4 separate regions of the Homo sapiens genome follow, and regions 1, 2 and 4 are each linked to region 3. Evidence: fine-mapped expression QTL. A gene starts in region 3. Each other region holds a variant in brackets. All regions are shown on one strand. Distances are between the middles of the regions.

Region 1 (8,216 bases), 170 kb before region 3:
GCTGTTCACTTGCAGCCCTATCATGCAGACCCACTGCAAACCAAGCCTGTGCTTTTTCTTCTTCTGTCAGCTAGTCCTAGGCAACTCCCCTTGAGGCCACTGGTGTGGGCTGAGAGAGGTGGTAAAGTAGTAGAAGCAAAAAATGTGGGAGGGTGAGCCACCTGCTTATGCAATATTCTTGAGCCTTTTATACCTGCTTGGGCCTTATCTTGTAAACACCATTTCCATTTTATACTGAGTACTGCTGCACATTCCAATTTTATGACTCAGTGGATTAGATAATGCCCAGTTCACAATGGACAGTTTGAGTTGCCTAGCTTGCCATAGTCAGGATTCAGACTCTATCAGGGACTAAATTCAGCCTTGTTCTGGGAATTGGTGCCTAGGTCTTGTGGTTTCATGGGGTTTTCTGGACTCTCTAAAGTTGGCACAGGGCTTCCTGTATGCAAAAGAAATCCCTACACTAAAGACTTCCCTGACATGATTGTGTTGCTGCATAAACTGTGATAATAATGACTAACCTGACTTTCACTTTTATTTAGTTAAGCTTCATAACAATTTGGTGAAGTAGGTTTTATGTTCTCCATTTAATCAGAAGAGAAAAACCTTGATACAGCTCTAGAGGTTAAATGCCTTGTCTGAGGCTACATGGCTCACAAGTGGTGACAGCTGGAGTCAGACTGCCAACTGCAATACTGTCCCCTTGGCCACCCGAAGTAGCTTCCCAAAGGCATATTTATATCAGCCACCTGCAGAGTCCTTTCAGTGCACAGAGACAAATTAGATTCATCTAGCCTGGGCCAAGGTATAGGGCATAGAGTAGGGTAGGTAAAGGCAAGGATATCAGTGGGTCTTGGTACAGGATGATTTTGTTGAATTCCTAAGGACCACATTCTCAATGGTGATGCCCACATTATAATATATACTGAAGCAATTATTGATAAAATGATATAATTTCTAAAATTTGCTTTAAATTAGCCAGGAAGAGAGAAACCAGTGATGAAATAAGATTGGCCATGTGTTGATAACAGTTGAAGCCTAGTGATGAAAATATAGTTCATTATACTGTTTTTCCACATACTAAAAAGTAAAAAATATATTCTATTCACCATGGCAGACCACATTATGGGCCATGCACCTATCTTAGCAAGTTTAAAACAACAGAAACTACACAATATCTGCTCTCAGACTACAATAGAATTAAATCAGAAATTGATAAAAGAAAGATAGCTAGGGCCGGGCACGGTGGCTCACGCCTGTAATCCCAGGACTTTGGGAGGCTGAGGCGGGTGGATCACGAGGTCAGGAGTTCGAGACCAACCTGGTCAACATGGTGAAACCCCATCTCTACTAAAAACACAAAAATTAGCCAGGCATGGTGGCACGCACCTGTAATCCCAGCTACTCGGGAGGCTGAGGCAGGAGAATTGCTTGAATCCAGGAGGTGGAGGTTGCAGTGAGCTGAGATCATGCCACTGCACTCCAGCCTGGGTGACAGAGCAAGACTATGTTAAAAAAAAATCATTATTTTGTTGTAAATCCAATATTGTTTTAAATTATTTAAATGTCACTTTAAATGTTGTTATAAATCCAGTTCTCTTCACTCCGCATCAAACAAGGCAAGGTGTGATCACACAGACTATTTGGGGGTGGGTGGCTGTGGGTCGTCATCTCCACAGTGCTTGGTTTCTCTTCTCAAATCTACAGCTTGGAGTAGGTTGATTTCCCTGCCTGTTTCCCAGGGAAGCGTTGCACTACCCATATGGCAGCTTTCTCATACTCCCTGTCTGCATTCCTCTGTTTCCCTAAATGAATGGAATATCTTGGATGAACTACTGCAAGGTCCTTTGGGTCTCTCCCACACAGTTTTGGCTCACTGCAACCTCTGCCTCCTGAGTTCAAGCGATTCTCCTGCCTCAGCCTCCTGAGTAGCTGGGATTACAGGTGCCTGCCACCACACCTGGCTAATTTTTGTATTTTTAGAAGAGACTAGGTTTCACCACGTTGGCCGTGCTGGTCTCGAGCTCCTGATCTCAGGGGATCTGCCCGCCTCGGCCTCCCAAAGTGCTGGGATTACAGGCATGAGCCACCACACCTGGCCCGATAATTCTTTACTCCTAGAACTAACTTCCCAAGATGTACTATACACACACTCACTTCCCCCAACCCCCACTCAACATACACATACACAAGACTCACTTACTGCCCCATTCCCTGGAATTGGTAGCCTCTATCTCCAGAAATATGGGATGTGAGAATGGAGGGTATAAAAGAGAAGGGAAGTGTACAAAAAATGCACAAAGTGCATAAATAAATATCCAAGGGATTTAGAGGGTGGATTAAATGCCAGCTTTTGTTCTTCCTATGTTTTGTGTGTCTGAGCCCAAGGACAAAACCTAGATGGAAGAATCAAGCTTGCTTACTTACATCCAGCACTCAGAAGGCAAAGCTGGGGTTCGTACCAGGAGCTGTAGCTTGGGTGCTTTCCTCAAAATGGTTATATCTGCCTCATAATCAGATCCCAATTTATCTGTCTATTGATTGCCTGTTGGTCGTAGTTTTCAGTGCTGCTGCAAGATCTGGTTATTTTCTTCATCTTCGTGGACAAAACACTGGAGGCAGTATTTTGAGGACTGCTACTCCTTCCCATGCTATTCAATAAATCTCCCCCAGTTCAGTCAGAAACACTGAGAAGTTACCCTGTGCCAAGCCCTGGATCAGGTGGCACAGGCTCCATGATCATTGTGTATGGGTGAGCTCATAGTCTAGAGCCAGTGCCAGCCGTGGGACTCGGTTAATGCCTCAGCAAACCTCCTGGCTCTCTGCCCCCCACCCCCTTCGCCCTTCGCTGACTTTCCCTTCATGACCCTGGTCTTTCCGTTGTGCCCGTTTCTATTTGCATAGACAAATACTTTAGCTATGCACCTATCTTGATTCTAGAAACTTAGGCTGTGTTTCAAGAAATGGATTGTTGTGGTCTCCATTTTGCCTCTGGAGCAGTGCATAGTCCACAGGGAGGCAGCATAGTCCACAAGCCAGGGTCCATGCTGAATTCCAGATAGAGATAGCAGCTGTGTGGCCTTGAGCTTCATGTCTCCAGCTCCCTCATCTGTCAAATGGGGATAATAATGTGCACCTGATAGAATTTTGTGGTAAGAAAATGAGAGGAAATATATTACAACACAAAGCACAGTCCCTGAAACAAAATGAAAGCTGTATAATACTCTTTTTCTTCCCCATCTTATACATAATGTGAAAACATTCCCTAAAAAACTTGGTTTTGGTCGGGCGTGGTGGCTCATGCCTGTAATCCCAGCACTTTGGGAGGCCAAGGCGGGTGGATCATGAGGTCAGGAGATCCAGACCATCCTGGCTAACACGG[T/G]GAAACCCCGTCTCTACTAGAAAATACAAAAAATTAGCTGGGCGTGGTGGTGGGCACCTGTAGTCCCAGCTACTCGGGAGGCTGAGGCAAGAGAATGGTGTGAGCCCGGGAGGCAGAGCTTGCAGTGAGCCGAGATTGCGCCACTGCACTCCAGCCTGGGCAACAGAGCGAGACTCCATCTCAAAAAAAAAAAAAAAAAAAAAAAAAAGAAAGAAAAAACAACTTGGTTTTGCCAGTATGACCTGTGAAGCTTTTCTGTATTCCTAGAAAAGAGTATTGTGTGAGTTGGATGACTGTGTGTGTGTGTGCACGTACACTCGGTCACACATGCACACTCTCCAGGTCTGCTAAATGGGGAATGCTAAAGTTAGTCTATTTTTGTTTGTTTGTTTGTTTGTTTGTTTGAGATGAGGTCTCACTCTGTCTCCCAGGCTGGAGTGCAGTGGCGTGATCTCAAGATCTCCTCCTGGGCTCAAGTGATTCTCACACCTCAGCCTATCAAGTAGCTGGGATCACAGGTGCACACCACCATGCCCAGCTAATTTTTGTATTTTTTGGTAGAGACAGGGTTTTGCTATGTTGGCCAGGCTGATCTCAAACTCCTGAGCTCAAGCGATCCTCCCACCTTGGCCTCCCAAAGTGCTGGGATTATAGGCATGAGCCACCATGCCTGGCCACCAAACTTAGTCTGTGTGTGTATGTGAGTATGTGATGTGCATATGCTCGTGCACACTTGCATGCCTGTCTTGGAGAAAAGAAATGACTCAGTTAAATTTGATTCGGATAATTGTCTAATAAATTAGTCTTTAATCAATCAGCAGGTCTTCCTAAAACCCTCACTTGCTCTAGATGCCAAGAGGCACAGATTGATAGAAAATATATCTTCTGCCTACAAGGATTTGCTGGTCAAAACTCTTTAAATTAGCTTAGGCACAAGGGTAAAATGTATTGGCTCAGGGAGAAAGACTATAGAAAGAGTAGGTTCAGCTGGATCCAGGGCTTAAACCGCCAGGACTCTCATACTGTCCTTGGGGCTCTGTTCTTATCTCCTTGCTAGCTTTGTTTTCTTAGACTGGCTTCTCCATAAGATAAGGGATGTGGCCGTGGGCAGTCCCAGCATTACATCCACACCGTGTGCAACCACAGCTCTCCTTTCCAAGTTTGAATGATAAAAATCTAACAAGAAAACTCTGATTGGCCAGGCTTAGGTCATGTGTCAATTCCCGGCCCAAACCAAGCCCTTGGGAGTTAATACTCCACTTGTGTCACCTGCATTCACTGGTGGCCAGAACACAGAGTATCACAAATGGCAGACTCATGTGGCTAGGGGGCAGTTTCCCGGAAGAAGGATGTTGCTATTATGAGCAGATGAGATAAATAATTACCTACGACACAGATGCATGCTAAATTTTGCAGTGGAGGAAATTAAGTCAGTGAAATAGTAAGTCGGTATTTTTTGAATTCTATTTTGATGGTGTCGGTGATATATTTATATAACTTTTACCCAGTTGGAACAAGCTATTTGCTTTTTGATAATATAAATGAACCACTTTAGTCAAAGTTTCATAAAAAAGGTATATTGATCCAGTTATTTTCAGCAAATTACTGTGGTTTTACAGCTCAATGCATGCCCATGAGATGAGTATTTTCTCATTTACTTTATAGTAACCTTTGTTAAGAGACTTATTAAGTCATAGCTTGTGGTACAAAGAATTTAAGTCATCTCTCCTCTCTATTCCACAAATGTCTAGGGCTTCTTTCTTTTTTGACCACTAATGCCTATAATTTCCAGTATTAATATCTTCTGACATGAACACGATAACATGAATCTACTAGATATAAACAGATGTAACAGCCATGGAATCCATTAGTGATGCTTTCAGAAAAAGAAATTTGGGATCCCAGGATCTGTCCCAACATTTGTAATATCTTGGGATAGGACCAGAAATTATGCAAGACTAAATAGAAGGCATGGATGGTCTTGGACTTACATATGGACTCAACTTACTGAGGTGGTGGTGAAATGGGGAGAGAGTGAATGAGTCAAGAATTGCAGAGACAAGATCAAGAGGCCTTGGCAACTGCTTGGGAAGGGGAACAAAGTAGAGGGAGGAGCCTGAGATGACACTGAAGTGGGGTGGAGGAGCAACTCACAGAACTAGGAGACAGGGAGGGGAAGCAGGTTGGAGGAAGAGTCCATTCCAGACACGGTGAAGACGAGCTACCAGGATTTGTTGGTAATATGGGAGATTTGTTGGTAATGCGAGATTGAAGCTCAGGAGAGAAAACAGATACTGGCTGAGCCATGATGGCGAGTAAGATCAGCAAGTCAAAAAGTGTAGAGAGAGAAGAGAAGACAAAGGAACTTTGAGGAACACTCCCTTAGTGACTGGAGGAAGTACTTGGAGCCAGAGAAAGAAGCAGAGAAGGAGCATCAGAGAGAATGCAGACACTGGAGAATGCCGTGTCGCATTAAAGAGCTTTGGAAGGAGAGTGGCCCATGGTGTCAAATGTGAAGAGGAGCCTGAGAAGGAGTCCCTGAAGCCAAACTGGAAAGTCTCTGCTAGGTTGGTGCAATGGACTGAAAGTGTGTGTCCCCCCACCCCACAAATTCTTATGTTGAAGCTCTAATCCCAGTGTGATGATATTAGCAGTTTGTGCCTTTAGGAGGTGATAAGGTCATGAAGGTGGAACCCTCATGAATGGGATTTGTGCCCTTATAAGAAAAGGTCAGAGAGTTAATACACTCTCCCTCGTGAGGATGTAAGAAGTCAGCTGTCTGTCACTGGAGGAAACCCTCACCCGAACCCAACCATGCCAGCACCTGTTCTCTGATTTCCGGCCTCCAGAACTGTTAAATTTGATTCAGATAATTTAAGAAAACTGTGAGAAATAAATTTCTGTTATTTATAAGCCACCCAGTATATTACTCTTCATTACAGCAGCCCAAAGGGACTAAGAAGGTTGGGCTTCCCTCATTTAGGAGAGATTCCTCAGAAGCAGTCTTGTGCAGTCGACTTATTCCAGAAGACATCTCTGAGGGTGTGGGGGGCAGCAGGACGGGGAAAGGTGTAGTACACTGGAAGAGGCATATCATGGCTATAAGATTAATGGCAGCCATAAGGCCCACTCATGCATCTTGCAGGGCTGGTACTACTGGTCACTTGGTAGTATGCTACAACCTGACCTGGAGATTTCCAACTCTGGTCCATGGATTTCCAGGAGACAAGGCCACCTCAGCATAGATGCAACTTTCATAAATCATAAAACAAAGCTTACTCTTACAAGAATAGCTTCAACTCCATTTATGAAAGAAACACTTTGTAACTGAGGTAATTGACCTGGACTGAATGCAGGTATAAGAAAGGGGGAAGGATCCCCCAAACTCTGAGAACAGTCTCCAGATGGAGACCCTCTCTGTCATTTGTCATCTGATCCCCTGACTGTATCTAGCCCATGCCACCAGCCTGCTCCTGTCTTATAAAAGTGCTGCCAGAATAAATTCCTTGAGCATTAGACAGTGTCTAAGACTCATGTCTGATGCAAATCTAACTGAAGGGGAAATATCACTCTTGGAGAAGCTGGTTAACTCAGACCACTCGAAAACCCCCAACACAACAAAAGCACAGCAGGTAAGCAAGGTGCAATTTCCAGCAAGTCCCAAGGAGGGGAGCTCCAGGCTGACCCTGCAGTGGGTGCTCTGGGCTTGCATTAGTCAAGGTTCTCCAGAGAAACAGAACTAATAGGATATATAGATGCTCCTCAACTTACAATGGGGTCACATCTTGATAAACCTGGCATAATTTGAACATATTATAAGTAAAAAAAAAAAAAATGCACTTAAGGGGCCAGGTGTGTTGTCTCAGGCCTGTAATCCCAGAACTTTGGGAAGCCAAGGCAGACAGATCACCTGAGGTGAATAGTCTGAGACCAGCCCAGTCAACATAATGATATCCCACCTCTACTAAAAACAGAAACTAACTGGGTGTGGTGGCACATGCCTATAATCCCAGCTGCTCAGGAGGCTGAGGCAGGAGAATCACTTGAACCCGGGAGGCGGAGGTTGCAGTGAGCTGAGATTGCACCACTGCACTCCACCCTGGGCGAGAGTGAGATTTTGTCTCAAAAAAAAAAAAAAAAAAAAAAAAAAGCACTTAATACACACGACCTACCTGAACATAATAGCTTAGCCTAGTCTACCTCACACGCGCTCAGAACACTTACTCTAGCCTACAGTTGGGCAAAATGATCTAACACAAGCTTATTTTATACTAAAGTGTTGACTATCTCATGTAATTTATTGAATACTATACTGAATGTGAAAAACAGAAAATGGTTGTATGAGTACTCAAAGTATAATTTCTACTGAATGCCTATTGCCTTTGCACCACTGTAAAGTAAAGAAATTGTAAAGTCGAGCCATTATAAGTCAGGCACAGTCTCTCTCTCTCTCTCTCTCTCTCTCTCTCTCCCTCTGTCTGTCTCTGTCTCTCTCTCTCTCTGTATACATATATGTGGAAATTTATTATAATAATTGGCTCACATGATTATGGAGGCCAAGAAGTCCCACAATTTGTTGTTTGCATCGTGGAGAACCAGGAAAACCAGTGTTGTAATTCAGTCTGAGTCCAAAGGCCTGAGAACAGTGGAGACAATGTTGTAACATATAATCCAAGTCCAAAGGTCTAAGAAGTAGGGGGCAGTTGGTATAAGTCCCAAAGTCCAAAGGTCTGATAACCAAGAGCTCTGATGTCCAAGGGCAATGGATGTTCCACTTCAAGAGAGAGATAATGCCCTCTTCCTCTGCCTTTTTGTTCTATCTGAGCCCTCAATG
Region 2 (8,000 bases), 38 kb after region 3:
TAATCTAGTATATATAAAACAATAAAATATTTTGATGAGATTTTACATCATTACAAAAAGTGTAATGATTTTACATCATTACATTTATTAAAAAATTAAATGAAAAGATTGCCTAAATTGATCATGTCAATATATTTAATTGACAACAAAGAACAAGAATGATTAAAACACAGATGATTAAAACATATTTTAACAATTAAATTTCAATTTATTCTTCTTTGAGTTTTTAATCAGATCCAACAGCAAAAAGGACCTAACACAAGATCCAGATCTTTCTCTACGTCACGTCCCTTTGGTAGAATTTTAAGGAATAATAAAATGGCCAAGGAGAAAAACGTGGGAGAGCAAGGAGAAAGATCACATAAATAATCTCCCAGGCTCTCAAACAATGTAAGGAATAGACGAAAAGAAGTATGTAACTATGGGGAACAATTAAGATTTTTGTCTTGGAGCAGGCCATAAATATTAATATTTTTGTCACTTCTAATGGGCACTAAAAATATAATCTGTTTTCTTCAATCTTTTCCACCTATTCTAAATGGATAGTAAAAAGTTTGGCAAAAGCTGGCACGGTGGCTCATGCCTGTAATCCCACCACTTTGGGAGGCTGAAGTGGGTTGATTACTTGAGGTCAGGAGTTCAAGACCAGCTTGGCCAACATGGTGAAACCCCGACTCTACTAAAAATACAAAAATTAGCCAGGTGCAGTGGTGTGCGCCTGTAATCCCAGCTACTCAGGAGGCTGAGGCAGAAGAATCACTTGAAACCAGGAGGAGGAGGTTGCAGTGAGCCAAGATCGTGCCACTGCACTCCAGCCTGGGCAACAGAATGAGACTCCATCTCAAAAATAAATAAATAAATAAATAAATAAATAAATAAATAAATAAATAAATAAAAGTTTGGTAAAGGGAAAAAATAAAATAGATTCTTAAAGTTCAAGCCAACAATTATTGACCGAATATCTACTCTGGTTCTAATATGTTAAGGATATAAGAGTAGATTATAGTGTTACTCCTGCCCTCAGAGAGCTTATCATCCTTAAAGAAAGAAAAGGCTACACAAGGAATTATTAGAGAAGACAGTAGAAAAACTCTTGATCAGAAGAAATTATCTGTCCTACCTACTATTACAGTTAACCATAGAGTTCAGTAACTACATAGCCCACGTACTTGAAATCCGTAGCTCATTACATGAGATAGGTTGTTCTAAGAATTCAAACGTTTATTTTAAACACAGCTAAAGTTTACAGTCTATCAACCTTAAATATTTCCTTCAATGCTCCACCTCCAGGAAAATCTGACAAAAGCATTATTACTTGTTGTGCTTGACAATTAAGTGATGAGTCAAGCTTGCCTGGAGACATGTAACTTTGGCAATTATTTTCCCACTGATCTCATTGTAATATTTTTATTGCATATCTAACGTTGAAAATGTATTATGTCTATTTTGTGCCGTCACTGTGGATACTTGGACAAACAAAACAGTTCCTACCATAAAGGAGCTCACCAAAGACACAGAGTTTTAATTCAATGCAGCTAAGTGTGACAGGCATGTACATGGTATATCAGTGGGATATGGAGGAAAGGCACACATTGGATGATGATAAGTTTGATCACTTGGGTGACATTCACCTGAGTGTCCATTGCATATTTTTGTCTCTTTATAAGCCTGGTGAGGAAGGAGAAGATAGGTAGGAAGGGACAGAATTTCTGGAGAATGTGGGATTTTGCCAGGCAAAGCAGAGAGGAAGGAGTGAGAATATCAGGTAGAGGGAATAGCAAAGCACCAAGCTGGGAAAAATTAGAGCATGAGCCTGGGCCACAAGCAGAATAGAGTGTCATGATGAGTGTAAGAGGTAGGCCAGGAGCAGATTATGAACCTTGAAAGCCAGTGTTAGAGATTGGTTTATCTTCCAAGTTAGTAGTCTCCAACATATGGTGTGCCCTGGAATACTGGGGAAATTTTAATTCTCTTAAAAAATTTCTATGCTTTTGTGTATATTTCATATGCATGCACGTGTATATATGTATATAAATATACACACATACATATATATACACGTGTATATATATAATTTTTCATTCACTGAAATCAGGACCTTAATTAAGAGGATGACTGGGGGTGGGATAAATGAATAAAAAAGCTCTCTTAGGGTCATTAAGTACTTAAAAACATGAGGAGAAGCTGTCCAGCAGACAGCTATAAATGAAAGTGAAGATCTAGGAGGGGTCTTTGCTTAGATATGTAGATTTAGGAGACATCCAATGAAGAGAGAAAAAAAATCAATGAACCAATGGCAGAATCTTGGGAAACACTAACATTTACAATAATATGGGCACTTAAAAATTTTTTAAAATTTGTTTTTATGCTCATATTTGAGAACTGTGAATGATTACTTTTTTCAAAAGTAAAATTAGAGCACAAGAAGCAGTGCTTGCACTTTTATTTAAAAACTCCCAAATATTAATACAAAGTAACTGCTAGGCCTTATTATTCCTTAGCATATGAAAGTGAGACACAATGCATCATGAAGGGGAAAAAATGTCAGCAGCAATTCAGAATGAAAAAAATTTCTTGCCATTTTGGGGGGCATCCAATTAAGGATTTTACAAGTCTACCATGAAACGGGCACTTTGAAGAAATGGCTGATTACAGGGCTGGCTCAGGGAAAATACAAAGTGAACTTAGGATACCTTTGTGTCAAAAGGCAAGGAAGTGCTTCGAGATTAAAGGGACTGTCAATAGGACATAAGAGCCGGCTTAGAGAGGCTCCCTCTAGCCTAATCTGGGATGATTTGAAAATCAAGAAGAATCATAAATTCTAACACATAGGGTATTTTAAAAAATCTGTGAATCAAAAGTGTGAAAAATGGAAAGTTCTTGTTCACAAAAAAGTCAATAAATGTAGAATGAATGATGGTATTAGAAAACCCCCATCTTAGCCAGGCACGGTGGCTCACGCCTGTAATCCCAGCAATTTAAGAAGCTAAGGCGGGTGGATCACTTGAGCCCAGGAGTTTGAGACCAGCCTGGCAACATGGCGAAACCCTGTCTCTAACAAAAAAATACAAAAATTAGCTGGATGTGGTGCCACACACCTGTGGTCCCAGCTACCCAGGAAGTTGAGGCTGCAGTGAGCTGTGATCATGCCACTGCAACTGCAGCCTGTGTGACCAAGACCCTGTCTTGAAATAAATAAATGAAATTCCCATGTTGCAACTCTTCTTTAATAACTGATTGATGCAAAGAATCAACAGATGTTAAAGCCATTGGGTTAGATTGTTGAGGAATAGGATATTTGCATAGTCTCAACAGGTTCCTTCTTAAAGTGAAAAAGTATCTTAGAATGGAAAGAAAAGGCAAATATCACTTTAACCAAATGTCACCAATAATAGGACAAACTGACATGTGCCTTCTGATGCCATACAAATGGAAAGTACATACCTTCCAGACAATATCCTTTAAATCTAATCATGAAAGAAACAGACAAATCTAGAATGTGGAGCATTTTATAAGTCAACCATCCTGTAGTCTCCAAAAATGTTAGTACCAAAAAAAGGCAACTAGCAAGGCATTATGGCTTATGCCTGTAACCCCAGCTACTCAGGAGGATTGCTTGAGCCTAGGAGTTCAAGACCAGCCTAGGCAACAAAGCAAGACTCCAACTCTCAAAAACAACAACAACAAAACAAACAAAAAACAAAACAAAACAAAACTTAGCACTGTGGCTTGAGCCTGTAGTTCCAGCTACTTGGGAGGCTGAGGCAGGAGGATCGCTTGAGCCCAGGAGTTTGAGGCTGCAGTGAGCTATGATGATGCCACTGCACTCTAGCATGGGCAACAGAGCAAGACCTTGTCTCAATAAAATTAAAATAAAATAAAATAATAAAATAAAATAAAATAAATAAAATAAAATAAAAAAATAAAATAAAAATAAGTAAAACAAATTGGCCAGGTGTGGTGACACATGCCTGTAATCCCATCACTTTGGGAGGCCGAGGTGGGCAGATCACCTGAGGCTGGGAGTTCGAGACAAGCCTGGCCTACATAGTGAAACCGCATCTCTACTAAAAATACAAAAATTAGCCAGGCATGGTGGTGCATGTCCGTAATCCCAGCTACTCGGGAGGCTGAGGCAGGGGAATCGCCTGAACCAGGGAGGCGGAGGTTGCAGTGAGCTGAGACCATGCCACTGCACTCCAGCCTGGGCGACAGAGAGAGGCTCCATCTCAAAAAAAGAAAAAAATGATAAAAGAAAAATAAAACAGAACACCAGAGAGAAATCAAAGAAGAGTCTACTTTTTTAAAAAGGGGGCAGGGGCCTAGCGCCGTGGCTCACGCCTGTAATCCCAGCACTTTGGGAGCCGGGGCGGGCAGATTACCTGAGGTCGGGAGTTTGAGACCAGCCTGGCCAACATGGAGAAACCCCGTCTCTACTAAAAGTACAAACATTAGCTGGGCGTGGTGGCGGGTGCCTGTTATCCCAGCTACT[C/T]GGGAAGCTGAGGCAGGAGAATCGCTTGGACCCGGGAGGTGGAGGCTGCGGTGAGCTGAGATCGCGCCATTGCACTCCAGCCGGGGCAACAAGAGGGAAACTGTCTTTAAAAAAAAAGAAAAGAAAAGAAAAAGAAAAAAAAGGGGTGGCGGCAGGGGGAATTACTCTAGAGGAAAGGATGAAAAGGAGGAGACTAAACTTAATGTATCGACTATGTCTGAGTTCACAATAAAAATAAAACAAAAACATTTAGATATAAAGGATATTTCAGGAGCAATTGGGGAGTATCGATTTTATATACATTAGCTATTATTGAGTCAATGTTAAATTTCTTGGGTGTCATAATGGTATAGTGGTTACATAAAAGAATGTCCTTGTTCTTAGATATGTGGTGATATATTTAGCAGTCAGTCATCATGATGACTGAAATTTATTTTCAAAAGGATCAGCGGCCGGGTGCGGTGGCTCATGCTTGTAATCCCAGCACTTTAGGAGGCCGAGGCGGGCGGATCACGAGGTCGGGAGATCGGGACCGTCCTGGCTAACACGGTGAAACCCCGTCTCTACTGAAAATACAAAAAATTAGCCGGGCGTGGTGGTGGGCACCTGTAGACCCTGCTACTCCTGTGAACCCAGGAGGCGGAGCTTGCAGTGAGCCGAGATTGCACCACTGCACTACAGCCTGGGCGACCCAGTGAGACTCCATCTCAAAAAAAAAAAAAAAAAAAAAGAAATATACACATAAGAGATAGGAGATAAAACATATAACAAAATGTGAACACTTGGTGAATTAGATAAAAAGAAATGGATGTTCACTGTACTATGTTTACAGCTTTCTGTAGCTTTAAAAAATTTCAAAAGTCAGAAAAAACATAATTTATGTGTGGCTAATATGCTATAGTTGATTTTATTTAGATGAATGTGCTAAGTACTGATAAATTATTTAGTACTTTTTCAAAAGCCCACCATGAAACTCTTTCCCATCACAGCTAACCAAGCTAAAAGGTGAACTGTCACATCTAGCAAGTGCCAGCAACATTTTGTCTTCCTCCCCAACGTGAGTCAAGAATCATGTTTGATCTATCTGTGAAATTAACAAACCAGCAAAACACCTATATCATTCAGCCACCTTATCAAAAAAATTTAACATTGGAAAATCTGTAATCTTCTGGTTTTAAAATAATTTATTTCATAGGTCTGTTTTAATTTCATGTCTCACAGCATACATTATTTAACCAAGAGGTGCTGGACAGAGATTGTAAAAAGGGAGGAAACATTTAGGATAAGAAACCGGCTCAATTCCATTAGAATTTGATCCTATCTTGTAAAGTCTTGCTAGGATAAATTTCTATAATACTTCTTTTGTGCTTACAAAAAAACATTAACTTCTGAATTTCCAATGTTGTAAATAAAAAAATTTTACAATTAGGTATGCATTCAATTAACACACAAGGCAACCAAATAAATTCTGTCATCAACATTAGCATAATGTGTATTTCCCGTCACTGCACTAACATTAAACTAAACTTCAAACCACAAAAACATTGTGACTAACATTAAAAAGGCAAGCTGTAAGATACTCAAAGCTTATAAAGGACAAATTGCACATGGTTAAGATGGGACATCATTTGACAAGGGCTGGTGTTGTGCATATGGCTGCTTTTTTTTATAAGAAGGCCACCGGCAAACAGGGCAACAATGTCGGCCCCCAGCCAACCACATCACAATGCAATTCTGATGAAACACATGACCACAAGGCAACCCCATTAGCAAACATCCATTTTCAAAATTCTCTAGGCAAACAACACATTCAGTACAGTGCAGCATATCAGCAGGCCAAGTTAACCAATCAGGTTCCATATCTTCATTAGTGTTATATGATCCATATGACCTCCCCTTCCTTTCACATGGGCTGGTCTGACAATATTTATTGGCACATGAACAAGCCTCAGCATCACAGTGACTTGCTGTTCCTGGAGAATTGTGAAGTACGCTTTGCTTATCTTCAAATACTTCCTTCTCACTACTCAAAGTGTCTGTGTTCTCACTTTCCGAGTCATTTTCAGTATCTTGAGACCCCTCCGACATTTCCTCTTCAGACTGGACTCCAAGACATTTAAATCGCCACATTGGTAAGTTTTTAATATAATCAGTTGGTATCAGAGGGTGAAGCCAAAGGTCAGGGAAAGCTAAGCGCTCCAAGAATAAGTCAGGGTCTTCGTCCCAATCAGATTCTACAGGAAAGTTCTGAAAAGAAGCAATCGGGTGGAAGAGGTAGCTGGTGTACCAGTCCCACAGACTTGATAACCATTCTAAGTTATTGGCATTGACTTCATCATTGTTGTTGTTGCGCCTTCTCTTCTTCTCAAAGTAATCAATTAGTAAACCATGACCAAGGTATGTACTGAGAAACAGGGCTGGGTGTGAAGAGTAAAACATCCAGTCTGCCCTTACCCATGAAGCCAGTGTGGTTGTATTGGAATATCTCAACAATTTTAAGCTATATTCATAAAAGCTATCTAAGTAAGGTAGCTGTAAAAAGCCCAACACAGGTAGCCAGGAAATAATTAATAGAGAATTATATGTCCCTAAAGTGCTTATGAGAACCACAAATCGCTTTATGGTAGCTCCTTGTGTAATAAATAAGTCCATCCAAGCCATAAGATTAACTAGAACCAAGCTCAAAACAAACAGATCATTTACCTCGGGTTGTAATGAGCGCAAAAATGAATCCATGGCCTGAAGGGATATAAATTCGCCTGTGTGGTTTCCATACCTGTAAATTCCTTCAGGAGTTCTAAGTATGTATGATGGCATATTATATATGCCAATATCTGTCATATAACTCTTGTTGTCCCAATTTTCTACATTAACAAAAATAAACTCAACTCTTCCAGTAAACTTTATACTTAGTGCAGAGAAGAAAGCTGGGGGCTGGTCAAGGTTTGCAAATAGGTATATTTTTAACCAATACTGATCACTTTTATTCCATTCTTCTTTCAAGTGTTCAGCATTATAAATGGTTTTGATCCGAGAAGCTGCATGAGCAGTTATCCATTTAAAAATGTGCTCTACTTCAATCTTGCGTCCACTGTATTCTTTAAGCATGACTTTCCCTTTTGAAGTACTTGTTTGTGGAACAGACATAATGAGTGTGGATCGGACCCAGCCTCTTCTCCTGCAATATCTACAAGAGAGGAAACTGTAAATAAACAGCTAGGCTGTAATGCAAACAATTTATCTTCCCTGACAAATTTCTTTAGCACCTCACCCCAAAGCCAAATAATTTCCAAATAATCAAAAAGTGGTACCACTACTTGGCAGCTGTGAAAAACAAGCTCTGTTTTTCTAGTTTGTTTTGTATTTCTGTGTTTCTTTTTTTTTTATTAAATAAAGTGTATCTTGAAAAGCCTCTGAGTCAAAGGAATCAGCAAATACTTCAGCATCTCTCATGTACCTACAACTGCGTTATGTGCTAAGATCCAGAAGACAAGAAAATAATTCATGT
Region 3 (8,000 bases):
GAGCTACACCACTGGCTTCTCTGGGTCTCCAGCTTACAGACAGCATATGATAGTACTTCTCAGCCTTCATAATCCCCAGTCAATTTCCATATTAAATTCCCTCTCAACTACCTATCTATCCATCCATCCTATTGGTTCTACTTCTCTGGAAAACCCTGACTAATACACCATCCCTGCTTTATTGGCACCTTCTTGAATTACAGACTAATGCTAAGTAACCACAGCTGGTGACAAAACACTTTCTTTGTTCACAAGTCACAGGTGTGAGAGAAAGCCTGGCACTTGGTAGAAGCTGACCCTAAAGTGGATGGACATTCTTCTAACAAACTAAAACATATCAAAACTGAATGGGTACCTTGAAGAACTGAGGAGGAACTTGAAGAAAACCTTGGGCAGGGTATCTCCAGCACCAGATAAAGTGGATAATCTAACACTAAAAATCCTACTAAATAGTCAAGAACCCATTCATAGGCAGGAAGAGGATGGAACACATGACAGTGAAAGGTCAAACTGTTTCTGATCATCTCAGCCTGGAGATAATCACTCCAACCACTGAACTCCTATACCTGTGTATGTGGTACTGTATTAGTCGGTTCTTACATTGCTATAAAGAAATACCTGAGACTGCGTAATTCATAAAAAGAAAAGAGGGCCGGGCGCGGTGGCTTACACCTGTAATCCCAGACTTTCGGAGGCCAAGGCGGGCAGATCACGAGGTCAGGAGATCAAGACCATCCTGGCTAACACGGTGAAACTCTGTCTCTACTAAACACACAAAAAATTAGCCAGATGTGGTGGCACGGGCCTGTAGTCCCAGCTACTCAGGAGACTGAGGCAGGAGAATCCCTTGAACCCAGGAGGCGGAGGTTGCAGTGAGCTGAGATCGCGCCACTGCACTGCCTGGGCGACAGAGCGAGACTCCATCTCAAAAAAAAAAAATTATTGCAGCACTATTCACAATAGCAAAGACTTGGAACCAACCCAAATGTCCATCAATCATAGACTGGATTAAGAAAATGTGGCACCATGGAATACTATGAAGCCATAAAAAAGGATGAGTTCACGTCCTTTGCAGGGACATGGATGAAGCTGGAAACCATCATTCTCAGCAAACTATCACAAGATCAGAAAACCGAACACCGCATGTTCTCACTCATAAGTGGGAATTGAACAATGAGAACATATGGACACAGGGAGGGGATCATCACACACCGGGGCCTGTCAGGGGTTGGGGGTTGGGGAGGGATAACATTAGCAAAAATACCTAATGTAGGTGACCAGTTGATGGGTGCAGCAAACCACCACAGCACGTGTATATATGTAACAAAACTGCACGTTCTGCACATGTAACCCAGAACTTAAAGTATAATTTAAAAAAAAAAAAAAGAAAAGAGGTTTAACTGGCTCACAGTTCTGCAGACTGTACGGGAAGCACAGCAGCTTCTGCTTTTGGGGAGGCCTCAGGAAGCTTCCAATCATGGGGGAAGGCAAAGAAATAGGCATCTTACATGGCAGGAGCAAGAGAGAATGAGGGAGAAGGTGCTACACACTTTTAAACAACCAGATCTCATGAGAACTCACTATCTCAAGGACAGTACCAAAGGTGATAGTGCTAAACCACTCATGGGAAATCTGCTCCCATGATCCAATCACCTCATACTAGGTCCCACCTCCAACACTGGGGATGACAATTTGACATGAGATTTGGCGGGGACACAGATCCAAACCATATCAGGTGCCCTATCCAAACCAGCTCTTAAAATGTTTATCTTACTTGCTAGAAGTTAAGTTCTTTGGCTTCTTATTTCACCTTTATAATCCCTCTTTGGGAGGTAGTATAAATGGCATGATAATTCTAAGTATAGGCCTTAGAATACATAACCTCTGGTGCTGTAATTCACAAACTGTATGACCTTGGGCAAATTACCTAAATACTGTATGCCTCAGTTGCCACCTGTAAAGTGGAGACAATAACAGTTCCTACCTCATAACATTGCAGAGTGCTTAACACAATGCCTGGTTCAATATGTTAGCTAAAGGTGGTGGTAGTTAGGGCTAATCTTAATTCACTCTACAATCTTGCTACTCAAGTGTAGACCAGCAGCATCAACATCACCTGGGAGCTTATTAGAAATCTCAGACCCTATCCAAGACCTACTGAATCAGATTTTGAATTCTGACAAGATCCCTAATGATTAGTGTGCACACTAATGCTTGAGAAGCACTGCTCTACAATACCCAGACTTGTCCATAATGGGGGGAAAAACAACTAAAATTTTTTATTCAATAAATGATCTTACCTGTTCGGCTCTGGCAAGCATAGTTTTAAAAACCAATCTCATGCATCAACCCTGCCATTTTCCAGTGTCAATCAGCTTTCTCAGGTAGATTACCCTACTGAAGAGTGTACCAATATCGTGTTCTTAGCAATTTATCATTTAAAAACAATCTAAGTGTACAATATACTAGAGTAGTATAGTAGTACATATACTAGAGACTAGTTTAAACAATAAAGCAACCATTTCCCCAGCATCTTTTTTGCTTCTCCATAATCTTATCTCAATTTACGAATGGCAATGCCAAGGCCAAACACTGAAGACAACAAATAATCTCTCCCTACCACACTTCTACAATAACAAGAATCTTAGAATATACAGATGTCACAAAATGTGCATCTATATAATGTTCTATAGTTTCCAAAGTGATGTTATACCGTTATTTCATTTAAGCGCCACAATTTTTATTTTACCAAGGAGCAAAACTGAGTAAGTTTCCTGACGAAAATAATGAGTGTCTACTGTTCTAGGGCCTTTAACAACAACAACAACAAATTTACATTAACGCACATTATGTGCCAGGAATTGCAAGATGCATAAGATTAGTTTTTAAAATGTGCCTGCTAGAGCTGAACAGGTAAGATCATTTATTAAAGGATTTCAGGATTTTTTTTTTCCATTATGGACAAGCCTAGGTGTTGCAGAGCAGTGCTTCTCAAAGCACTGATGTGCACACTAATCATTAGGGAGCTTGTCAGAATTCAAAATCTGACTCAGTGGGTCTGGAGTGGTGTCCGAGATTTAACAAGCTCCCAGGTGATGTTGATGCTGCTGGTTGGCATTTGAGTAGCAAAGCTGTGCCGTATTTAAAGAATTAGCCCTAACTACCAATATGAAAACTTTACATCCCTGAATCTTCAATTACTCTGAGGTGACACTACTATTATTCTGGCTTCACAGTCGAGAAGGCACTGAGAAGTGAACTTTCCAGAGATCACAGAGCTGAGATGTGGGAAGGCAGGATTCAAACTTAGGTTGACTGACTGCAGGGCATTTTCAACTGTTTGCCTCCCAATATTATCTCAATTAATAGGTAACGAGAGTTCGAAGCCGGGTCCAGAGCTATCTTCTGTAACATTCTTCTGGGTCGAGTCCCTGCCCCGCTACGGTATGTGCCTAGGGTCAACACAAGGGCTGGGGAAAGAGGAAACTGAGCCTCTTTTTCAACACAACAGGGAGGACGGAGAACAGACGGCTCCTCCGGCAGACGCGACCCGGCCCGCTCCAAACAACGCTTCGGGCAGGAGAAGGTTCTCCGGGTGGTCCGCAGCCGGGCTGGAGGGGTGGGGCCTACGCTGGGAAAAGGTTCCGGGCGGGTCGTACCAACGCGCGCAGGGGGAAGAGGTTTCCGAGGCCAGGACGGTGTCGCTGCCTACGCGCTCAGTGGCGAGGTGGAGAAACTCTTCATCCACCCTCGGCTACCTGTTCGAGAGCCATGGCACCAGGAGCTCTCGCGTCCCACAGCCGACTCCTAAAGACTCTTCCTCCGGCCCCCCTGTCGAGTGGGAGTCCCCGGAAATGGGGGCCGGGCGGTATCGGGCAGGCGGTGGGGAGAAGAGTGTCCTGTCATTTACCAACTTCACTACGCCCCACACAGATCCACCCGCTTATCTGCCGCCGCCGTAGCCCTTACCAGTTCTTTGGGCGGCTTCTCCTGGGTCTTTCCAAACAGCCCCATGACGAACTGAACCCGTCTTGCCCCTTCCGGCTTTCAGTTCCCCGCGCCCAGGCAGGTCACGGGCAGCCGCCTGGGCGGGGCCCGCGGAAAAGGAGGTAGTCCCAACCCCCAGAGTAGGGAGCGGCGGCACTAGGGGATGTTGCGCATGCGCCATACGCCTGCGCAGAATCGAGTGAGTGGGAGACTAGTCAAAAAGGCTGACGTCATCGCACATGTTCTGGTCATGTCTGTGTGGGGGAGACCACGGATTCGGTGCTTTTCGTAAGGTGTAGAAATGATTGCTCTGAAAGATACGAATTTGTTGGCTACAACTGCTTCTAATACTTCACCTAAACCTAGATGTTGCACCAGAAGTCTGGATCTCCACGCAGACGTGTACACTTAGCATCACTTTCCCGACAGCTTCATCTTTGTGTCCAGTAGGCAACTCACAGGTGACAAACCAAAAATAACCTCTTTTTCCTCCCGCCAACCCACTCCTCCCCTCTGCTTGCACCACCATCACCTGGTCACTAAACCCTAGGCATCGTCCTCTCTCCCCTCTTACCAAGTCCCAACCATTCTAACTTCAATATGTCTGAACTTCAACCCTCCCCTTTCCATCCCAACTGCGGTCGTTTTTTTTCAGGCCATCGCCCTTTCCAGCGTGGGCGATTCCTGCCTAGCATTTGTCCATGTGTGTCCCGTCCTACACGCCACACTGACCGTGAGCTTAATCACACTCTCAAAGGAATCTGACTAAAGAGAACTAGACACATTTTAGCACGGACAGTTCCTGATTAGGCCTATACGGTGAGCTGATGGTTACTGTCATTAACTCATCCGAGGATGGTGAAGGGGACCATTTGTTACCTCAGCCCCATACTCCTGTCTCTGGTGGAATCATAAAATGGTTCGGCAGCTTTGAAAACATTTTGACAATTTCTTAAAATGCTAAACAAAGCCAGCCTTCCATTCCTAGCTATTTACCCAAGAGGGAAAAAAGCATATGTTCTTACAAAGACTTGTACACAAATGTTCATAGCAGCTCTATTTGTAATAGCCATAAACTGGAAACAATCCAAATGTCTATCAACAAGTGAATGGATAAACCAGTCGTGATTGATCCATACGAAGGAATAGTACTGAGCAATAAAAAAGTAAACTATTGATAAATGCAACAGCATGGATGAATCTCAAAATAATTCTGCCAAGTGAAAGAAGCCAGAACCGTATGATTCCATTTACATAACATTCTGGAAAATGCAAACTAATACATAGTGACAGAGAGTACATGGGCGGTTGCTAGCGGATAGGAGTGGGGTCAGAAAGAGGCAGAAAAGAGGGATTACAAAGAGACACGAAGTTTAGGGGGATGATGGATAATATCTTGATTGTGATGATGGTTTCACAGATGTATACAATATCAAAACTTACCAGGTTGGACACTAAGTATGTGCGATTTATTTTATGTCCAATCATACTTCAATAAAGTTGTTTTTAAAAAAGCACTGCCTGTTCATTGTGAAAAGTTAAACCCTCATTCTCACTTCCTCAGGGGAAAAGGTCTCAAAGGATTCACACCAACTATTAAATATAGTGTGAATCTTCTGAAACCTTTTCCTTTGGAAAATATACTTTTATTTTTATTTATGTATTTGTTTTTGAGACCGGGTATCACTTTGTCACCCAGGCTGGAGTGCAGTGGCAGGATCTTGCCTCACTGCAGCCTCTACCTCCCAGATTCAAGTGATCCTCCCACCTTAGCCTCCTGAGTAGCTGGGTGTCAGCCACCACGCCCACTGTGTTTTTAATTTTTCTGTAGAGACAAGGGTTAGCCATGTTGCCCAGGCGGGTCTCAAACTCCTGGGCTCAAGCGATCCTCCCACCTCAGCCTCTCAAAGTGTTGGGATTACAGGTGTTAGCCACCTTGCCCGGGCCTATTTTTACTTAGTTGAGATTATATTATATACATTGAGCCACCTCTCCCAGCCCTATTTTTATTTAATTGATATTATGTTATATACGTTGTCCTACAATTTCCTTTTAAACACATTTTATGTAGACTTTCATCAGTGTCAATACCTATGGCAGTCCATAGCAAGAATGTACCATAATTTATTTAACCATTTCCCTATTATATAAGATTGTTTCTAGTTTTTCCCTAGTAAATAATCCTGCAAATATAGGCACAGTTAAAAATTTTAAACTTAATACCAGTATCTTCCATATACATTGCACTATTGTGAACTCCTACCAATAGTGTATACCAGCACTCTTATTCCCTAAATCCATGCTAAAAGTGAATTTTAGCAATATTTAAAATTTTTGCCAATCTAAGGGCATAAAATATTGTTTTTAACTTTAATTTCCCGGACTATTAGTCTGGATAAGCATCTTTTCATATATTTGTTGGTCATTTGAATTTCTTCTGTGACTTGCTTCTTCATAACCCTTGTTCATTTTCCATTTATCTCCCTCCTTCCCTTCCTTATTTCCTTTCTTCCTTCCATTTTAAAGGTGAAGGAGTTCCTTGAAAATGTGGAATTTTTTTAAGTCTCTTTCACCTTTTTTTGAGAATAAACTATAAGCATTTTTTTCAAGTAGGAGGATACTGGATCGCCAATTAGTCAACAGTATTTCTCAAATGCCTACTATATGTCAGGCATTTTATAGGCTTCAGGAAAATGGCAGTGAGCAGAAAAAAATCTCCTACAATCTGATGAGAAGGACAATAGTATTAAACAATGGTTATAGACGAAATTGTATTACTACAAATGTGCAAAATTCTGACTATAAGAAGAAAGTGCTGATCAGTGACTCTTCCCTGAACAGATGACAAATAAGCTGAGACCTGAAGGATGAGCTAGCAGAGAGAGGAAGAGTATCCAGAGTAAAAGAAACAGCATGTGCCAAAGAGCCTTCCCTGTTTCTGGGTGGAGGATTTAGGCCACAGCCATTTCAGATCCTAAAGCTGCAGTTGTTCTAAAGCTGGCCATCAATGGCAGAGAGGCCTGGCAGGGTGTGGAGGAAGGTTTGACTTGGCACATGGCCTCTCAATGTCGTACAGAGCTCATAGGTACTGACAGAGCCCTATCAACACATCAGTGCAGTTCCTCTGCACCGTGCATCTTGCTTCCACACATTTTTTAGGCTCTATCTTTAGAGTAACGTGTACTCTCCATTTGTGTCCTGATACTGCTTTTGCATTGGACAGAGCACTCCTTAGTTGCGGCTGGGGCTCAAGTTCGTCCTTCCTACATGGACCTCAGGAAGCAAGCTACAGATCCTCCCACCTGCTAAGACTCACACATCTGAGTGGGTGGGAAGAACTAAGTGAGCAGGCATTCTAGCTCTTTACTCCTGCCAAACACAGCAAGTGTTTAACAGGATCACACTCCCCTGCCATATGTTCACATAGACGTTTGTTCACACACATTTTCAAAGGCTTTATGTGCATTCTCCTCCTGATCTCTGAAAAATATAAATAGATGTGTATCCTTGAGAGGTACTTCAATGCCTATGCTTTAAATCCTCCCCTGAATTTGAAATGAAAAACAGAAAGGACTGTTTTTCCTCCACCTTCCAGTTTTCCTTGCTCATTTCACTAAGATATCCAGTCTTAGGGAGCTTCCTGGCTCACAACTGTTCCCCATTTGCCAGGTAGATTGTTAAATGAAATGCTTTGGGCAAGAAAATCATAACCCAATTCCTGGCAAGACTTTTGGCTTTCTAAAGCCAAGATACACCTTGTTTTATACAACAGATGGACCCTGGAAATGTTAGATATAAATCAATGTTTGGAAACTGAACTCCCTCCCATGACTTATATAATAATTTTGGAGTGGATTTATCTTTATGACTAAACTTCAGGACCAAGGGTCTCCCAACCCACAACTTACGACTTGAGATAAGGCGAAGACAGACCTTGAGTCACCTCCTGTCCATTTCCAACCATTCTCCACCAAACTTACAATAATCCTTGTGTTGATTTCCTAGGACTGCCA
Region 4 (8,216 bases), 98 kb before region 3:
GAGAAAATTTTCGCAATGTTTTTCTGCTTTAAGACAGCTCATCTCTAAAATTGATTTCAGCGCCAGGCACTATGGTAAAAGCACAGCCCTGTAAAGTATACTTCATGGGAAGAAAGTGCTAGGAAGTGTTAGAGACTGAATTTCAAACCAAAGGCTAACACCAAAATCCAGTACTCTTCATCACTGTGCTGTTGCCACTGCTCTCCAAATCTTCTCCTTGGTGTGGTGAATCACCCTTGTAAAAATAGCAGATTTCTCCTTTCTTCCCTCCTTCCCTCTGTTCCTCCATCCCTCCTTCCAACAAGTATTTATTGCATATTTAGTGTATGCTAGACTGATCTACAGTGGTGATCATCACTTCCTGTCACTTCAGGTAACTCATAAGACTTATTGATTTATAGCTATTTAGAAATGTTACATGCTAACAGCATTCACTCCTTGGTATGTTCATTCCACCAGTCTTATTTATTGAGCATCCACTGTATGTTTGGTTTTATGAGGTTATAACAGTGGGCGCAACAGCAGGGCCTCTGCCCATAAACAGTGTGTGTCCCATTGTGAGGAGACTGACAGTGAATAAGTGAAAGGTACTTTCATGGTGTGATAAGGGCTATGAAAGGTATAAACAGAAAAATGATAAAGAGTAAGGGACGGCTTTTGGGATGCTACTTCAGAAAGAGTAATCAGAAATTCTGAGAGTGTGACATATTAACAGACTTGAGGGTGAACAGAGAGAACCAACCAGCCACTGAAAACGATGTAGCCAGAGAGATAACAAGTACAAAGGCCCAGGCAAGAAAGGGCTTAGAACACTAGGAGATGAGAAAGGAAGCAAGTGTAGTTGGAGTACTGTGAGCAAGCGGGGCAGTGAAAGAGATGGGGGGAGGAGGAGCAGGAGTGGTAAGGAGACTGGACCACATGGGATTCTTGTAGGCAGTGGACTGCCGTGATCTTATTTGATTTATGTTTTATAGAGATTGCTCTGTGGTAGAAGAGATCTTGGGTAGGATGCAGAGGATTCAACAAGAATGGAAGGAAGGTTGGTTAGGACATGTGTAGCTTAGGGGAAAGATGGTAGTAGTAGTGACATGAAAAGAAATGGGTAGATTCAATACATACTTTGCAAATAGAGGCAAGATTTATTGGTTTATTGATTACATATGGGAAATTAGATGGAGGGTTTTTTTTTTTAACTTGAGCGGCTTGATTTTATACAGAGTAAAAATTTATGCTTAGGTTTATAATCCAAATTTCTTAAGTATGTTGCTCTTGGGAGAGTGAGGAAAGGTATTAGTGCATCAATTCTAAACATATTCAGAATAAGGAAGGTGACCAATATGAGGAAAGATAATTGGTAAAATTGAGCCTTGAATAAGCATTTCAAAATGATTTAGCATTAAACTTTGGGAGACTAACCTCAGATTAACAGGGAATTGCAAACTATTACAAGCAAAAGGGACTTTAGGAATAAACAAATTTCCTCATTTAAAGGATTAGGAAACTCAAAAAACACCCAAAACCAACCATCACACCTTCTGGAGAACATTAAGGTACTATTTAACCAAAATTGAGTTGACTGAAATAGTGTAATATATGATCAGATAATTTAGTGCCTAAAAATAGTTGAAACTATGCCAAAACTTTGCCAGTGATTAAATTCTTATTTTTCAGATATATCTGTATATGCTAGCTAGTCTTTTCAAGGCTGTCAAGTAAATTTCTGAGAAAAGCATTCATGAGTAGAGTACATATAAATATATTCGAAATTGTCAGGTTTTAAAAACCTGCTGGCCAGGCACAGTGGCTCATGCCTGTAATCCCAGCACTTTAGGAGGCCAAGGCAGGCAGATTACTTGAGGCCAAGAGTTGGACACCAGCCTTAACATAGCAAAATCCTGTCTCTACTAAAAACACGAAAAACTAGCCGAGCATGGTGGTACATGCCTGTAATCCCAGCTACTCGGGAGGCTGAGCCCTGAGAATTGCTAGAACCCTGGAGGCAGAGGTTGCAATGAACCAAGATGGCGCTGCTGCACTCTAGCCTGGGTGATAATAGTGAGACTGTCTCAAAAACAAAAAACAAAACAGAAAACCTATTAGTGGAAGTTGTAATCAAACTTTAGAAGTTAATGACTAGAAGATGAAGAAACTTTGGAGATTCTTCAAGTTTAGATTTGGTGGTAAGGCAAGACGATTGAGAAAGGTATATGACTTAAAAATTTAAGGTATATAACTTAAAAATTTAAGCACATGTGAGGAGCCTGGTGAAATGGGTGAATTGGTTTCACCTGGTTCAGCCTTAGACTAGTTGTCTTGAGTTTCTCCTTTCTTTTTTATGGTGGGAAGTTTATTTTTGTGAATGGTATAAACTGTTAAGAAGTTGATTCAATACTTCCTTTTTTTGAAGATTAAGTTACCTGAAAAGGGAACTGGGACAGGTGTCCCAACTTTGCCCACAGGCCTGTCATAACTTGATATTTTTTGCAGCTTGGGATGACTTCTGTGACTTGATGAGCCACATAAGAGCAAGAACTGTCCTCAACTTTTATTGCATTGCAAAGGCTTATCTGGGTACCAAATAGGCATCCCTGCCTACAAGAGTCCTATGTGGTCTGGTCTCCTGCCAAACTATGCAGTAAGTGCGTGGTGGGCACTCAAGTCATGCCAAAGTGAATGCATGTGAAGCTGCCACCATTTAAAACTGTCACTTAAAAGTTCACCTCTGCGTTGCATTAGTAAAGTAATTGCCACCTGACTGTTTTCCTGGCACAGTGGTTCAGAGGTCTGAAAAAGATAAGCTTGTGATCCTTTGTAGGAAGACATAAGTTTTGTGAAAAGCTGGAGTGATTACTTACAGTCTTAAAGCCCTGAATTGTATAGTTTATCACTTGTTTCACTTTCCTGTTTCTTTTTATTTGGCAATGGTATTATGTTTGTTTAGTATTAAGCAAATGATCTTAAATTTGGTAGCATTTTATTATTTCCTAACTAGGGACTTCCTTTTAATATCTGTTGGTTTGGTATCTTCTAGGCCTCTCCCAGTATGTGTCCTGTGCAGTCTGTACCTACAACAGTTTTTAAGGAGATACTGCTTGGCTGTACTGCGGCAACTCCACCTAGTAAGGACCCAAGACAGCAAAGTACTCCCCAGGCTGCCAACTCTCCACCTAACCTTGGAGCAAAAATTCCTCAAGGGTGAGTAGTGATTTGTTAAAGATGTTTAATTATAATAATAAAAAATTATTTTAGTCATGGCTCATTGTTTTTATCCCTGGTTGTCCAGGGAGGTTTTTCGTTAGAGTTTCTGAGAAAAGATGGATAGATGCTTTTGAAGGTGAAAAGTATAGAAGGCACACAGAGCAACATAGAAAATGGTATAGAAGTGAAAGGGGGCATGAGAAAAGAGACTGTCTTGATACAGTGTGAAGGAGCAATTGAAATAGTACCTTTGTAAAACAGGTGTCTTCTTTTAAGGAAAAGGGAACAGATTGGTTGTACATGGAAGACTGAGGTCAGTGGGAGTGTGAAGAAGCAGTGAGACATGGTTACAGTGAGAGATTCTCCGCAGCCTCGACATGAATTGACCCAAGTATAGTTGAGAAATTTGGCAGTAGAGAGGACTCTAAGAATAATAGAAATGAGGAAGCAATATCTGTAGGTGGTAACTGTTACTAACTTGTAGAGGAAGAAAATGAGTACGAAATGTAAAGTTTCACTAGAAAGTTTAAAGTAGGTACAAGGTTGACAGAGCAAGTAGTTTCAAGGGAAGGATCTCTTCTGGGAAGTGGTGGTGGCCTGCGTAGGCAGGCAGTTGATACAGCCTTAAGATGTAGGTCAGAGAGACTGTGGTATAGAAAAGTAGGTTTGGAAGGTGGGAGAGTGGCTGAGCACACTGGTTCACTGGGAAAAAGTAGTCAGTCTGGGATAGAGCTTGGAGGATGGCCATGTGGCAGTCAGACAGGAGGAGGAGCAGTCTTCAAAATAGAAACGGAGGGAACATTAGGAAGTTCAGTGATATCCAAGGAAAGATTTTTCATCTGAGTGTTTAAATGAAAAATTCTTCTCCAGGGTGAAGTCCTTTGGTAGAGGCAGGAACAAACAGGTATAATAGAAAAAAAGGACTTTGCATTTTTCTGGAGAAAGAACTCTAGGATGCTAAGAAACAAAAGTTCTTCAAGGCTATCCCTAGTAAGATGTACAGGGAAAATACCAAATCGTTCTGTGAATAACCAAGTAATCAATCAGCTATTCTATTTGCTCTGTGTGCTGATCACTGAACAAACAAGAATGAAATTATTCTCTGTTAGGGCTGGTTACATGTTGCTCATAGCAGAAAAGGGTTTTGTGCTGCTGCCAGTTTGTTAGTTTTTTTTTAGTTTTTGAGGTTTTTTAGAGACAGGATCTTGCTCTGTTGCCCAGGAGGGAGTGCAGTTGCAGTGGTACAGTCAAAGTTTAAGTTTACTGCAGCTTTGAACTCCTGGGCTCAATTGATCCTCTTGCCTTAGCCTCCCAAGTAGCTGGGACTACAGGCGCGTGCCACCACACCAGGCTAATTTTTAATTTTTTTGTAGAGATGGGGGACTTGCTATTTTGCCCAGTCTGGTCATGAACTCCTGGCCTCTAGCAGTCCTCTCATCTTGGCCTCCCAGAATCCTGGGATTACAGGTGTGAGCCCTTGTGCCTTGCCCATTGTTCGTTTTTAATTAGATTTTGTGTGAATATCTTTGAAGGGATTTCTAACATTTTTTATATACGTATATATTTTAGAATTTTTATCTTGACACATTGACCTTTACTAGAGGTTCAATTTTTGACTCTTGGCAAGTAGCAAGAATGGAGTTTTATCTTTAAAATTCAAACATAATCTTTACTATAGAAGAAAGAGTTTTAGCAGAGGTTTCTCTGAAATTTACACA[CA/C]AAAAAAAAAAAAAAAAAAGAAGAAAGAAAACTTTCGGAATTGCCCCTACACAGACTTCTGGTTTTGATACTTATAAACCAGCTTATCTGCTGAGTATATTCTTTGGTTTCATACAATATTTTGTTTTGAGGGAAAGCTAAGGTTCATTGTGCTGTGAGAAGTAGAACTAACGTAAGAAGTTAAAGATTTCTGAGAACGTGCAGACATAATTTAGGGTTGTATTTTTCTGAGTGTTTATGATTTTTGCAGAACCATTGACTGATGACTTTTAACTCTAGCTCACAGAAATCTATCCTAAATTCTGTAACATATGAGAAATTTTCTTTTTTCTTTCATACTCGTTACCTTAGGGAACCAAACAGTTTGTTTGGGGAAGATAATGGAGAGATAAAAAGAGGCCTGGATGCTAGCTTTCTATATTATATTTTTCAGATGTCATAAACAAAGTTTACCAGAGGAAATTTCTTCCTGTCTAAATACAAAGTCTGAAGCTCTGAGAACAAAACCAGATGTCTGCAAAGCAGGGTTGCTCTCAAAGTCCTCTCAGATTGGAACTGGAGACTTGAAAATTCTGACTGAGCCAAAAGGCAGCTGTACTCAGCCTAAGACAAACACTGATCAGGAAAACAGATTGGAGTCTGTTCCACAAGCATTGACTGGCCTTCCTAAGGAGTGCTTACCTACAAAGGCTTCTTCTAAGGCAGAATTGGAAATTGCCAATCCTCCTGAACTGCAGAAGCACCTAGAACATGCACCTTCCCCATCGGATGTTTCAAATGCACCAGAAGTGAAAGCAGGTGTCAATAGTGATAGCCCTAATAACTGTTCAGGAAAAAAGGTAGAACCTTCAGCTTTAGCTTGCCGATCACAGAATTTAAAGGAATCTTCAGTAAAAGTAGATAATGAAAGCTGTTGTTCAAGAAGCAACAATAAAATCCAGAATGGTGAGTGTTTCTCAATATCTTTATTGGTAGAAGGTAAGAAATGGTAGATATATATATCTCTTTCTTGTCCTATGAGAAACTATGTGAAAATGACTTTGTAGAAATAGTTTATACAGTCAGAAAAGTTGAAAGAAGGTATAATTCCCAAATCTCAGAAACGATTACTGTTAATATTTTGGTGTACCTGGTTTCATGTATATAGAAATACAGATAAACTGTATTACACAAATGGGTTCATGCCAATAATTTTACCCTGTGAATTAGTGTAGGTGTCTATTAGTATTTTAAAGCAAGGATTCCATTATGTTCATTTACCATAGGATTTAACTGGTTCCTATTAGGTGGGTAATTAGGTGGTTCCCAATTCTTAGGTTAAGAAAATTTTGAAACAAAATCTAAAGTAATCTGGTGTTTACTTTATTTCAGCTTGTCACTGATCTTTCTGTTACATCCAGGTTGGAGTAGGAAGAGGTGATCTGTGACAGGTAGCTAAGATTTGAAATTTTAGAAAAGATGCAGAATTGTATCATTTCTGGAAAAAGGACTTGGGTTAAAGATGTTACGGATAGGGCTGAACTACCAGGAAGAGTCTCTTTGCTTAAGGGGAGGTCCTGCTGCACCCACAATTTAAAACTACTCTTCTTATGGGGAAATTGGTACGTTGTACTTGATGCTACTTATATGAAGTTTGAGGATGCATTATAATGGTGGTAGTTATCAGAAGCTCTGTTACTAGAGTTAGAAGAACAAAATGTTTTCAGCATGTCAAAAGGTTTAGAGCTATTAGAATTTAAAGATGCCTTTTGATCACTGTTAGCTATGTGGGAAATTGATATGGATTTTGTTAATGTTTTAGGCTGGGCATAGTAGCTAACACCTGTAATCCTAATACTTTGGGAGACCACTGTGGGAGGATTGCTTCAGACCAGGAGTTTGAGACCAGCCTGGGCAACATAGTGAGACCCCATCTCCACAAAAAATTTTTTTAAAAATCAGCCAGGCATGGTGGGGCACACCTGTTATTCCTAGCTACTGGAGAAGCTGAGGCAGGGGGGTTGCTTGACCCCAGGAGTTGGAGGCTGCGGTGAGTTATGATTGTACCACTGTACTCTAGCCTGGGCAACAGAGTGAGAGCTTGGCTCAAAAAACAAACAAACGAAAACAACCTACGAAAACAATTTATTTATTTGGATCAGTAAAAATGAATATATCTACACTATCTTTTTAACTGCAGGCCTCTGTGAAATTAGAGGGCAAGATGGCTGGATTTGACTTGCGAATCTTTTTAGTATAGCATTGGAAGAATAGAAAGAACTTTCTTTGCCTAGCAATACTTCTAACCTAGCTTCTTCATTGAGGCTTAAGTTAATATAGCTGTTAATTTGCATAAAATTAATTGCATAAGATTATCCTGTTCTCAGAAATTAGGTAACACTCAAAAGAAAGTACATATTCATAACCATATCCTTGTTCTATTTGTTGTTTTTGAATCATCAGCTCTCACACACAGCTAGTTTTTGAAGCAAATTTAATATTATGTGACGAAACAGTAAAGATTCTAGTGCAATAAGCACATGATAGATACACAAGTGAGTTACGGAGTCCAGCTTTGTCTCATTTAATATGTTATGTAGCTATTCCCCATCTAATGGATTTTAAAAGAAGTGAAAAACTTACATCCTGGAGTAGCACATCCTGCTATCTACTGTGACTTTTTTTTTTTGGTTGAGGTGTGAGAGTGTGATCAGAAGCCTACCGGGACTTCTGAGCTGTGTCCACTAGTACTGCATGTTAGTACAGAAGGCTTGGAAAACTTTTCTGCTCCTTTCTTCCACTTGGGGTCTAGAAAACAAAAGCAAACTGGAGTCAAACAGCTGCCTTTTTTTCCGTTCAGATAGATACGTGGCTCCTCGGAAGTGGGCGTTGCATTTTTCTCTTGACTTGGCTTTGAATTCAGAGAATCACTGATGGTAGCACCTGTTGCTCTCCTCAGTAAAGAGCTAGATTTAGACAGTTCAGCTTTCTTGTTTCTAGATATTTCCTCTTGTGAGCCAGGATAGAACAGATAAGATAACCTTCTTGCCTGTGATCTGTGGAAGCCTGGCTCAACTCAAAGGATGTCTTTCAATATCTGAGTAATTAAAATTACATCCTTGAACTACTAATCTCTTTATTTTCTCTCCTTTCTTACTTTACCTTCTCTTTCACTATAACTGAGTAGGAGTGTTTAAGGGATCAAGGACTAACAGCATCATGTAGAAATTTACATGTGGTCTAGTCCTGCTTTAAAAGAGAGGTAAGATTAGATCACCTCTAAGGTAATTATTGAAGATGTTTACTTTATTTAAAACCTT

Which allele goes with the higher level. Positions count from the first base shown, and alleles are read on the strand shown. Sizes are in standard deviations (SD) of each study's normalised expression. Not every link is listed here.
As copies of CA replace C in region 4, the expression in lymphoblastoid cells after a statin of the gene that starts at base 4,109 in region 3 goes down (moderate effect, 0.72 SD a copy in CAP).

The links.
Region 1: its variant is fine-mapped to the expression of CHMP3 in tibial nerve (GTEx, PIP 0.92).
Region 2: its variant is fine-mapped to the expression of CHMP3 in whole blood (TOPMed, PIP above 0.99).
Region 4: its variant is fine-mapped to the expression of CHMP3 in lymphoblastoid cells after a statin (CAP, PIP 0.95).

The regions. Positions count from the first base shown.
Region 1 is chr2:86,393,609-86,401,824 of GRCh38, forward strand. No RefSeq gene overlaps it. Among named protein-coding and RNA genes, the nearest start is that of KDM3A, 44 kb to the right of the region's middle. The variant T/G (reference allele first, on the strand shown) is at 3,383.
Region 2 is chr2:86,597,740-86,605,739 of GRCh38, forward strand. The region is part of intron 3 of RNF103-CHMP3 (RNF103-CHMP3 readthrough); the gene reads right to left. It overlaps RNF103 (ring finger protein 103), which reads right to left. Exons shown (of 4, transcript NM_005667.4): 4 at 5,659-7,679. The coding sequence ends at 6,104. All of the region lies in intron 5 of CHMP3-AS1 (CHMP3 and RNF103 antisense RNA 1), which reads left to right. Among named protein-coding and RNA genes, the nearest start is that of RNF103, 22 kb to the right of the region's middle. The variant C/T (reference allele first, on the strand shown) is at 4,493.
Region 3 is chr2:86,559,335-86,567,334 of GRCh38, forward strand. It overlaps CHMP3 (charged multivesicular body protein 3), which reads right to left and starts at 4,109. Exons shown (of 6, transcript NM_016079.4): 1 at 3,970-4,109. The coding sequence starts at 4,014. All of the region lies in intron 3 of RNF103-CHMP3 (RNF103-CHMP3 readthrough), which reads right to left. It overlaps CHMP3-AS1 (CHMP3 and RNF103 antisense RNA 1), which reads left to right and starts at 2,736. Exons shown (of 6, transcript NR_183901.1): 1 at 2,736-2,913; 2 at 3,512-3,586; 3 at 3,934-4,065; 4 at 4,354-4,448; 5 at 4,643-4,806. RefSeq lists enhancers at 3,535-3,704, 3,715-3,814, 3,972-4,266, 4,425-4,484.
Region 4 is chr2:86,461,022-86,469,237 of GRCh38, forward strand. It overlaps KDM3A (lysine demethylase 3A), which reads left to right. Exons shown (of 26, transcript NM_018433.6): 9 at 3,032-3,195; 10 at 5,351-5,862. Among named protein-coding and RNA genes, the nearest start is that of KDM3A, 24 kb to the left of the region's middle. The variant CA/C (reference allele first, on the strand shown) is at 4,917.